Linked DNA regions of Homo sapiens: region 2 is linked to region 1. Evidence: fine-mapped expression QTL. A gene starts in region 1. The other region holds a variant in brackets. All regions are shown on one strand. Distances are from middle to middle. Region 1 holds the start of DDX60L (DExD/H-box 60 like). Region 2 overlaps PALLD (palladin, cytoskeletal associated protein).

The links. PIP is the estimated chance that this variant, and not a neighbour inherited with it, causes the effect.
Region 2: its variant is fine-mapped to the expression of DDX60L in whole blood (TOPMed, PIP above 0.99).

The regions. Positions count from the first base shown.
Region 1 is chr4:168,478,039-168,483,419 of GRCh38, forward strand. DDX60L (DExD/H-box 60 like) reads right to left here and starts at 2,454. Exons shown (of 38, transcript NM_001012967.3): 1 at 2,339-2,454. RefSeq lists an enhancer at 2,473-2,712.
Region 2 is chr4:168,501,333-168,506,713 of GRCh38, forward strand. The region is part of intron 1 of PALLD (palladin, cytoskeletal associated protein); the gene reads left to right. The region is part of intron 1 of LOC107986198 (a long non-coding RNA gene); the gene reads right to left. Among named protein-coding and RNA genes, the nearest start is that of PALLD, 7.0 kb to the left of the region's middle. The variant T/C (reference allele first, on the strand shown) is at 2,920.

The DNA.
Region 1 (5,381 bases):
GCAACAAAATGAGACCACATCCCTATTTTAAAAAGGAAGGGAAGCGAAGGGGAGGGGAGGGGAGGGGAAAAGAGGAGAAGAAGGAAGGGAGCCAAGAAATTTGGGTCGCACAGGTGACAGCTTCTGTACTGCAAATAAAAAGTGATAGGACAAAAAAAAAAGAAAAAAAACACCTTGCTCAACAAAGACTCATAAAGAATTCTCAGTTAAACAGAAGGACTTAGCCTTGCTGCAAGTATTAGGTGGAGGTGTTACCCTCCCAGGCCAGACTATCATTTCAAATGAACTTAAGACAGATTATGCTAATTTGAGAGGGAATTAGGATGAAAATAGAAACTCTCTGGGTGTAATTAACGGCATAGGGAACTAACTAGAGCATAAGAAGCTGGATACATTTCTTAGAGAATTGTATTTCCAAATAAACTATGAGCTGCCTTAAAAATGGTTACATCAGTAAAACAAGCAGCAGGTTATAAAAAAGGGTGATATCAGTAAATCAACCAGCAGGTCTCCATACTTACAAAGCAGAAAATGAGCCTGCAGCAGGGAAAACCACAGAGATTTCCACCCACATCAACATAGCCGTGGATGATAATTAACATGGGTATTTTATTAAAAGCCATAAAGCTAATCCTGAGAAGAATTTTTAAAAATATATAATTCATATTAGAAGTATTTCTTTCACAGGGAGTCGTCGGAGTCTGTCTAAAGTAGATAAAACAAAAGACTGATTTGTAAGCATATAATTTATAAGCAACCAAGAAAGAAATGTATATCTTTGGAGTGGTAACGCCTCAGGAGAACTAAAACTGTGAGACTAAGTATGAAGGGGAAAGTAGTAGAGAAGGGCATTTAATTTTTGTTTTATGTCTTTCTCTTCTGCTTCAAATAAAACTGATCAATTATGACCCAGCATACCATGGGGTATCATACAGCAATTACTAAGTAAGACTGACAGGTACCAATAAATCATGAACCAAGAAAAGCATACCAGTATGACAGCCAAAATATCTTTTAAAGTGTATGGATCTAGAGATAGACAGATGATGGATCGATGGATGGACGGATGGTTGGATGGCTGGATGATGGATGGATGGATGGATGGATGGATGGATGGATGGATGGATAGAGAGATAGGAGCTATAGACAAAAACTTGTCTCTTTGTAGAGTATCAGGAAGGATTCACACTAAACTATCCCCAATATCTTTGGGATAGAAGGCGAAGAGCCTTGGAAGCATAACTCACCCTCATTTATTTTAGTACCCTCAACTCTCAGCACCTGAGTTCCACCAAACTTCAAACTGCAAATCTTAGATTGAATGGTATGTTACTGTTTTCAGGAGAACACTCGAAATCATGAAGGTCTGTATGTCGTTGATGTTATGGTTTGGACTTCTTATTGTGTCTTTAAAGGACTTGCTTCTGTTTGGTTCTGACCGCTTTTTCTAGCAGTCATTAGGAGCTTTCATAATCCTTAAGGCCCCATCACGGATGATGTCAGCTTCTTTGATTATGGAAAACCTTGAGAAGTTTATTATAAATTTATCAATGTAACTTTGTAAACAAAAGAGAAGCGGGAAAAAAGAACAAAGTACCTTTCCAGAGAAATAGTAAAACCTTATTTCCGCTATTAAGAGCTTAAATCCGGCCGGGCGCGGTGGCTCACGCCTGTAATCCCAGCACTTTGGGCGGCCTAGGCGGGCGGGTCACGAGGTCAGGAGATCGAGACCATCCTGGCCTAACATGGTGAAACCCCGTCTCTACTAAAAATAAAAAATAAAAAATAAAAAAAAATTAGCCGGGCGTGGTGGCGGGTGCCTGTAGTCCCAGCTACTCGGGAGGTTGAGGCAGGAGAATAGCGTGAACCCGGAAGGTGGAGGTTGCAGTGAGCAGAGATAACGCCACTGCACTCCAGCCTGGGCGACAGAGCGAGACTGACTCAAAAAAAAAAAAAAAAAAAAAGCTTAAATACAAGACGGAAAAAAGGGAAGCGGCTTGCTGCCTGTCAATGTCCAGGTTCGAATGGCTGTGCTCAGATGTGGTGACCCTTACTTTCTCCTCAGCACCCCAGATCCCCAGGCCCCCTCGGGTGCAGAGGACCCGTTAAATGCCTGAGCACTCTCCTCTCTCACGGTGGTTGTCCCTCTTCCCTACCTCTCCGCGAAGCTGCCGCCCGAGCCCAGTGGGCGCCCCAGCTTCCCTCGCCCGGCGCGCACGAAGCCACCAGGCCACCTCCCCGCCCGGTCCATCTGGATGTTGAAGGAATCCTAGAACCCCCGCGGGACAGCTCCGCTCCAGGGTCCCTAGCGACACCCGACGTCACCCGCAATCCTCACCCCGGCCGCCGAACCTGCTAGGTCCAAAGAGCTTCGGAGCTGCACGCCCCGCGGGGAGGAGGTGGAGCAGAGGAGACCGAGCGCAGAGCCTGGCGTCGGACTGGGCGCTCTGAGCCACACAGCAGCCAGCGCCTGAGTTTTTATCTAGGGAGTTAGTTTCGGTTTCTTTTCTCCACCGCGAGGCCTTTTCGATTTCCGCAGTTTTCTGGAGGTAGAATATAGGTCTGCATTGGTTTACTCTGAGAATCTTAGGGAAGTAATAGTAGAAGCGATGATATGCTATCTGGGACATGCATGTAATTGTAAAGGGAAAGAAAGCAGAGAAATCTGGGACTCTAAACAAGGAATTGAGGCTGAGAGTAAATGCAGCACGCTAAGCACTATGAAAGTCTGCGGTGAGGTGTGGCGTTTTTCTTTTCTGGCAAGGTACTGGACAGGCAAAAATGGAGTAAAAAAGGATTAGGGGCTTTGAGTTTCTGTCCTAAGAAGTTCATTTTATGAAAAATTTCCAATAGTATAACTGTCCAGTGTGAACATTTGAAAGACCAATCATCTATCACAGAGAATTTAAATTGAGAAGAAGAATGCTCTTTAGTTTTGTCATCAAGCTCATTAATGTTTGAAATTCGAGTTTCAACCCCAGCCCATCATGGTCTTTAGTGCTCCAGACGCTTAATTCCATGACGTTATGCATGTGCAGAATATATTGAGATTCAAGGTGGTGGTGAGGGTGCCCCAGTAACGGCATGGGGTAATAAATGGAGAGAAATCGAAACCGGAAGTTCTGTCTTCAAGAAAAGGAAAGGGTGGAAGTGACTTGTTCACAATAGAAAGAGCCCAGAAGAACAAAGTTTTTTCTCAGACTCTGGAATATAAAGTGGCTTCGAAAAGGAGGTGAAAACATTGCTCACTTCTGTCAGGATTTTTCTTTAATTTTATGTTTGGTTGAAAATAGTTATGATTCTCTTTCTCAATGAGGATGACATTGAGAAAGAACCTGAAATGACTCATGATTAAGTCATGAGTTCATCTCAGATGAATTCCTCTCTAGCATCTGATACTGGACCTTTGTATCATAAGAATGCATTTGCTAGCAGCAGAAAATTGGGCTTTGCTGTAAAAGCATTCATTGAGCTTTTTATGTGCCAGGCAATAGGCTAAGCCCTTAACATGTATTATCACATTAAATCTCACAGAAATCCCATGAGCAACTTTACTGTTGCTATTTTATGGATGAGGTAAATAAGGCTTAGAGAATTCAATTACTTGTCGATGACCCTACAGGTAGTTAATGGTAGCCAAGACTTCAAAATTTAATTCCAAAGATAATATCTACAATATTCTCTGTATATATTATCTCATTCCAGTTCTTTTAAATACTACAGTGTCATTATTCCTCCCCCAAAGCACATACAATTTAATGGGGATTTCCTCTTTTGGTTGTAGAAGTGGGCCCTACATGTTCTTAATATAATTGACTGTCTGCTGTTGTTTTTCTCTCTTAAAGATATAGATGTATCAGGTGGGGATTCCCTAGATGTTAACTCCACACATCCCACTTCCCACCGCAAAGTATATGTACAATGCACATAAGCAGACTCTACTCCAAATCAATATCCAGTTCTCTTCCACTTTAATAATATGTTACCATAACTCCAGCCTGGACATTATCCAGAAACTTGAAAATCATAAACTCCATTTCCACTTTTTAGAGACTTCCCCCTTGCCTCAATCTCTCAGTCTCCTTAGGAGCCCCACTCTTTCACCTCCCCAGGATCAACTCTGTGAACAGGCACTGAACCTTCCTCTCACTAACATTCTCAACTGCTTCATCCACTCTCTTTCCTCTGCACCTTCACTGCAACTTGATCACCTCAATCTAGTAAACCATTTTTTGCCCTTACCAGGACATTGAAGGAAATTGTCTAATATTTTTCACCTCAGATTTACTGTTTATGACTATAGGTTCCTGATCTTTTTTACAGTGGCCCTTAAAACCCTACAGCATCTTGCTGTTCTCTTCAAGTCCACTAAGAATATATCTGTTTTAAAGAGACTCCTTTTAACTGTCTGACACCTCCATCTAGTCCAAGAAGCCCATGACATGCTCCACATACAATATAACCACTCCCTTTTGAGTTGGTTACCTCCAGCTTCCTCAGGAATCTCACTCCATTCCTATATTGTTAACCTCTCTCTATTTACAGCTGTGGTAGACTGAATAATGGTCTCCCAAAGACATCTATGTCCTAATCCTTGTACCTATAAATATGTCATCTTCTGTTGCAAAAAGAACTTTGCAGATATTCCTAAGAATCTTGAGATGGGGAAATTACCCTGGATTATCTGGGGACCTGATATAATCAGAAGGGTCCTTATAAGAGGGAAGGACTATTATCAAAAAGGAACCAGGACAAGGATAATGTGGGAAATTATCAGGATTTCAAGACTGCAAAGGATGGTAAAAGTAAGAGACTCACTGCTGGGAAAACGTACTCTGGAGAAAAAGTCATGAGTACAGCTGGACAACCTTTTGCTAGTGCTTCAAAAAGATCTCTGTGACATACACAGGAAATCCAAAAGATTTCTGAGAATATCAGCAGAAACACTGCCAGCTTGAACTGAAAGGTACAGAGAGAGAATAAAATGAAAGACGGTTATAGGACTCCCAAAATTCCATAAGCAATAAACAGTCTGATAAAACTATTCAGCCCCAAACTTGTGCTATCTTTCATGAAGGATGACTCTGAGGGCAGAGCCTAGAGACACAAATGGTTATTCACAGGCCTTAAAACCTATGGAGTTAGCCTTGCAGATTTTTGAAATTTCTTGGCTTTTTCTCCTTCCATTTTCTCCCTTTGTGAACAGGAATATCTGTAACTGGTACCCTATTCCTGTTCCACCATTGTATTTTTGGAGCAAATAACTTGTTTTCTAGTCTTAAAGCTTCACATATGGAGAGAAATTTTGCCTCAGGATGGTTCATACCCAAAGTCTCAACTATACCTGATTTAATCATTTAGGTCTTTTCAGCAGATGAGAT
Region 2 (5,381 bases), 23 kb after region 1:
GAGCCCACTAGATCAAGGTTGCAGTGAGCTATGATCACACCATCGCACTACTACAGCAGGGGCAAAATTGAAAAGAAAGGAAAAGAGAAGAAGAAGAATGAGATATGCCCAGGGAGTTAACAAAATAGGTCACCGTGGACATTTACCTTTGAAAGCAATATTTGCTTAGGATAAGCCAAGATGCTTATAAGGATATAAGCTGCCTGTTGACAATTCAAGGTTGATAGGATTCTGTAATGACTCACAATATTTGCCAACCCTCCCAAACCTTTGCTTCACCAAATGTTTGCTTAAGATGAAGAGTTTGGCATTAGGCACATGTTGAAATTCACCTGGGAGAATTTCCCTTCAGAGCGCCATGAGGTGACATGGCAGCTGCCCCCATGGTACACTCTGAAGGAACCTAAAGGACCATTGACCTGAGCATGTTCTCCTCTTGTGACTTTCACCACCCTCCCCGCCAAGGGTGTGCCCCCCAAAACAACAGTGGTCTGTAGATGTGAACATTAACATGCGAATGTGCACTTCATTTTATCTTATATGTCTGCACCCTAACAACTTTCAAAGCTAGTTTGAGGCTGTATGCAATAAAAGCATAGTACAATTGCCCAAAATCAATTAAGAAAATGCAGATCAAACCAAGTATAAAAAGCTTTGAACTTGAAATGTTTTCTCAATTTACTACCTTTGTCCTTTCTCTTCTTAGAATCTTAACTCCCTAGGACAGAGAATCTATCTTCTTTCCAGCTATGTCCCTGGCCTATGAAAGAGGTGCCTAGCACATAGTAGGCACTCAATAAATAAATGCTGACTGAATAAAACAATGAGAAAAGTAAGCAAAATAAATTTTTTTTTTAGCTAAAAACATCTGAATTTCTATGACTGGAAATTTAACCCTGAGCTTGCTAGTATCCGTGTGAAAGAGTCATCAAAGTTTACAGAATTCTTTGTCTAACAGAATTGCCAGAAAATAGAATAAATGCTTTTCTAGTTCCAAATTTTTTCATGAGAAACTTTCTTTGAGGGTAATGAGAAAGACTGACATCCACGTCTTTATAGATACTTTTTTTTAACACAATGTCTGACCTATGACTGATTTTGCTTTAGCGAAATGAGCAGGTAAAGTGTATTTTATATGTAGACACAAACAGTTATGTGTTATATGTATACACTAACATTTAGCACTGATTACTCTATCAAGTTTTTACCAGAAAACAGAGCCCGGGACACAAGCAACAGTTGATAAAACAGAAGAAAAACCTAGTTTAAGAGCAGAATAATGTTTAGCTGCACTCAGTGGCTCACATCTGTAATCCCAGAACTTTGGGAGGCCAAGGCAGGAGGAGCCCTTGAGTCCAGGAGTTTGAGACTGGCATAGGCGAAAAAGGGAGACCTCGTTTCTACAAAAATATATTTTAAAATTTAGCCAGGCCTGACGATGCACACGCGTAGTTCTAGCTACTCAGGAGGATGAGGCAGGAGGATCCCTTGAGCCCAGGAATTCAAGGCTACAGTGAGCTATGATCATGCCATTGCAGTCCAGGCCGGGAGACAGAATGAGACCCTCACTCAAAAGAGCAGAATAACACTTAGCTGAAGAGAGCATGTCCCAGAGAAATGTCGCAGCAGGTTCTGGGAGGCTGAAAGCAAATCAGTCATCAGAACATTTCCTGCCTCGTGCCTTTGTTCACATGTGTGTCAAATCCTATCCAGGGCTCAAACCACATTTCAAACACCCGGTATTTCTTAGCTTTTCTCCATCAGCTGCTGTAACCCAGTGTGCTAAGCATTTGCCATACAAAGACGCCAGTCACAGCTCCTGCTTCCATTGGGCTCACAGTTGAATGAGGAAAGCATTCTCTAAACAAATACTTGTAATTTAATATGATGACTGCTGTGAGAAACGCAATGCAAAGTAACATGCTTGGAAGAAGAAGCAAATTATATTGATTGGGGAACTGTTAGAAAGCACCAAAAAGTGGTAAAATTTAAGAAAGTTTTCAAGGATGAACCGGAGTTTGAAAAACAGAAAGAGGGCTGGATGCAGTGGCTCATGCCTGTAATCCCAGCACTTTGGGAGGCCAAGGCGGGTGGATGACAAGGTCAAGAGATCGAGACCATCCTGCTAACAAGGGGAAACCCTGTCTCTACTAAAAATACAAAAATTAGCCGGGCATGGTGGTGGGCGCCTGTAGTCCCAGCTACTCAGGAGGCTGAGGCAAGAGAATGGTGTGAACCTGGGAGGCGGAGGTTGCAGTGAGCCAAGATGGAGCCACTGCACTCCAGCCTGGGCAACAGAGCGAGACTCCATCTCAAAAAAAAAAAAAAAGAAAAAGAAAAAGAGAAAGGAAGCACATTTTAAGCAAAAGGAGCAGCAAGTGCAAAGGTGTGAAAACCAGAAAGAATCTGAATTGTTTGAGGAATGGTGAGTGGGCCAGGGAGGCCTGAGTGCATGTGTGTTGGTGATGACAGAGGGTGAGGCTGGAGCATTTCCATCAGCTCAGGCTGTCCACGGGTATGTTTAACCTGCACATCGTGCTTTGGAACTTTTCTCATCAGCCGGGGAGCATCATAGGAAAAAAATAAAAACCAAAAGAGTGACGTGACACAATTTGTACCTATGATCTCTCTTACCATTTTTATCCCTTACTGCAATTTGTTGAAACTATTTTAATAGAAATTATCACGCTCCTCCTTGTAACTGAGTTATTTTTTACTCTTGTCTAATCCCTCCTACTGGATTGTAAGATCATTTAAGGAGAATAACTACGCCTGCCTCATCTTTGTCCTCCTTGAAGCTTCTCTTGCACAACTAAGCAGTTGTTCCGTTGATTTCATGTTCAACTTACTATTCCAGGAAAGGGAAGTAGAAGAAAGGAAGCATGACTGTAAGATGGGCGAGGCCAAGGAAGAGTCATT[T/C]CCTCCATGGTGAAGAACATAATGCTACGCAACTTCAAGCAAATTAAAAAACAGTTGTGGTTGGCCAGGCATGGTGGCTCACACCTGTAATCCCAGCATTTTGGGAGGCTAAGGTGGGCAGATCACAAGGTCAGGAGTTCAAGACCAGCCTGGCCAATATGGTGAAACCCTGTCTCTACTAAAAATACAAAAATCAGCTGGGAGTGGTGGCAGGCACCTGTAGCCCCAGCTACTCGGGAGACTGAGGAAGGAGAATCTCTTGAACCCGGCAGGTGGATCTTGCAGTGAACTGAGATCATGCCACTGCACTCCAGCCTGGGCGACAAAGCAAGACTCCAACTCAAAAAAAAAAAAAAAATGGCTGTGGCTAATGAGCGTTTTAGGGAAAATGACAATTAAGCTAAACTGCTAAAGCTGGAGATGATGGATAAGACAAGGATGAGAAAAAGAAGAAGACAGAAGAATTTCTAGGAAATTCAGATTCCTTCTGAGAAAAGTGAGGAGGCAGGGGACAGGACAATTTAAAGATGCCAAAGAATCCTTTATTCTTCAAAATTTCAAAATCTTTCAATGCTACTTACTAAAGTAGAACCACTTTAATGGCGTTGGTGTTTACCTCATTTCCTCTTCACTCATTAACAGCAGTATTAGTGGGTCTTTTTAGTCTATTTCATCTTCTGTGTCTATCACACCGGCATAGAATTACCAAGAGCACTGTTTGACAGAAAACATGAAATCTCAGGCAAATGATGGAGATGTTTGTGATTGTGTTTCATTCCTTTTGATTTTGACCTTTTCATTTTGGAGTGCTGACTGACATGGAAATCTCTGAAGCACAATTTTCCAGTGAACTTGGCCCGCTTGGAAACCGCCCTTGTTCATCCTCATTGAATGAGCATTTTCCCTAGACCACGTGCATGTTCCCGCGGCAATAACTGGCTTGCAAATTAAGCCTGAACCAGATATGCCATAGAACTATTATTTTCTTTTTCAATGTGCAAGCAGTTTTAAAGCTACACCTAATCCTGACTACTGGATCCTGTCAGATGGCGCCTCTTTAAAACCAAAATATGAGTTAATAAGCAGGTGAGATAATCTGCCTCCAGCAAACACTCCCTACATTAAGAATTGAAAATGTTTTCATCATTCAGAAGTTTGCTTTAAGCTTTGTTATATAATGCTCCTTGTGAAGTTTTAAAATGTATCATATTATGTTCATTTGGAACTAAAAAGCAATTGAATTAATAGCAGAACTCTGATTTCTGATCCACAGTTTTGTTAGTTTGATACATTGCTTAGGATTCTCAATTATGAAAACTACAATGGTAAGATGGTAAAGTGCATAGAACATGAGCTCTGGAGTTATTCCCTGGGCTTAAACCTTGGTTCTCCCACTCAGATTTTCTGCCTCCATTTCCTCCTTTCTAAACCAGAGGCTGCTGTGAGGGTTTTAAATGAAATAATCTACATGATGACTCTGGGCACAATGCCCACCGCAGGGTAAGCAGTCCATTATTAGCCATTATCATTATCAATCATCGTGATCATTAATTGCCTTTATATGTGTTATATGAAGTCATTAGGTAGCTAATGTTCTATAGAAGGGGTTGGCAATTTTTTCCTGTAAAAGTGCAGGTAAATATTTTAGACTTCATGTGCCATATAGTCTCTGTTGCAACTACTCAACTCTGACATTGGTTCAAAAAAACAAAGACAATCTCTACATTCAAACTCCTACCCATGAATTCCAACCCAGCATATATGTCAAAGGCCACCTATTCCTTGACCATATTTTCAATGGCCTTGCCCACTTCCCTCCCATTTTACCTGCATGTCAAACTGGGATCATCTATCTCTGTACCTTCACCTGGATGGCTGAGCTCTGGTGGAGAGAATTGCACAATCACACAGATTAATGACACTATAAATACATCACATCTAACTTCAACCAGGCCCTCACCTCTACCCATAAATCCTTCTTACAAAACTTCCTTCCCCCTTTTTCTACAACAGCTATTTCAAATCATCTTCTGTCCTCATAAACCTCCAATGCACAGAAGTCTCAGTTTGGGAACTCTCCTTTCTTTCTATTACAAATTTTGCAGAGAATCTCATGTTTCTCTCTCTCTCCCTTTCTCTCTTACCGCCCCCCATGCCCCAACACACATACACCCTTTGTTACTTCTCTCCTTTAACAATGAAAGAACTGCCCCCTTCCTACTGGAAGCTGAACACCTCATACTCCGTTTGTCCTATAATAACTCATTTCTTCTTACATCTTTTGAGAGCTGACCTATAAATCATCCCCGCTTTTTTACATTTATTTTCAGCTTCTCCCTTCTTACTGCCTAATTTGGTTTGTATAAAACATGTTACAGCGCTCTATCCTAAAAATGAACAAACCTCACCAGAGTCTATACTTTTGTTCAACTACTACCTTCTGTCTCTCCTTCTTTCTATGA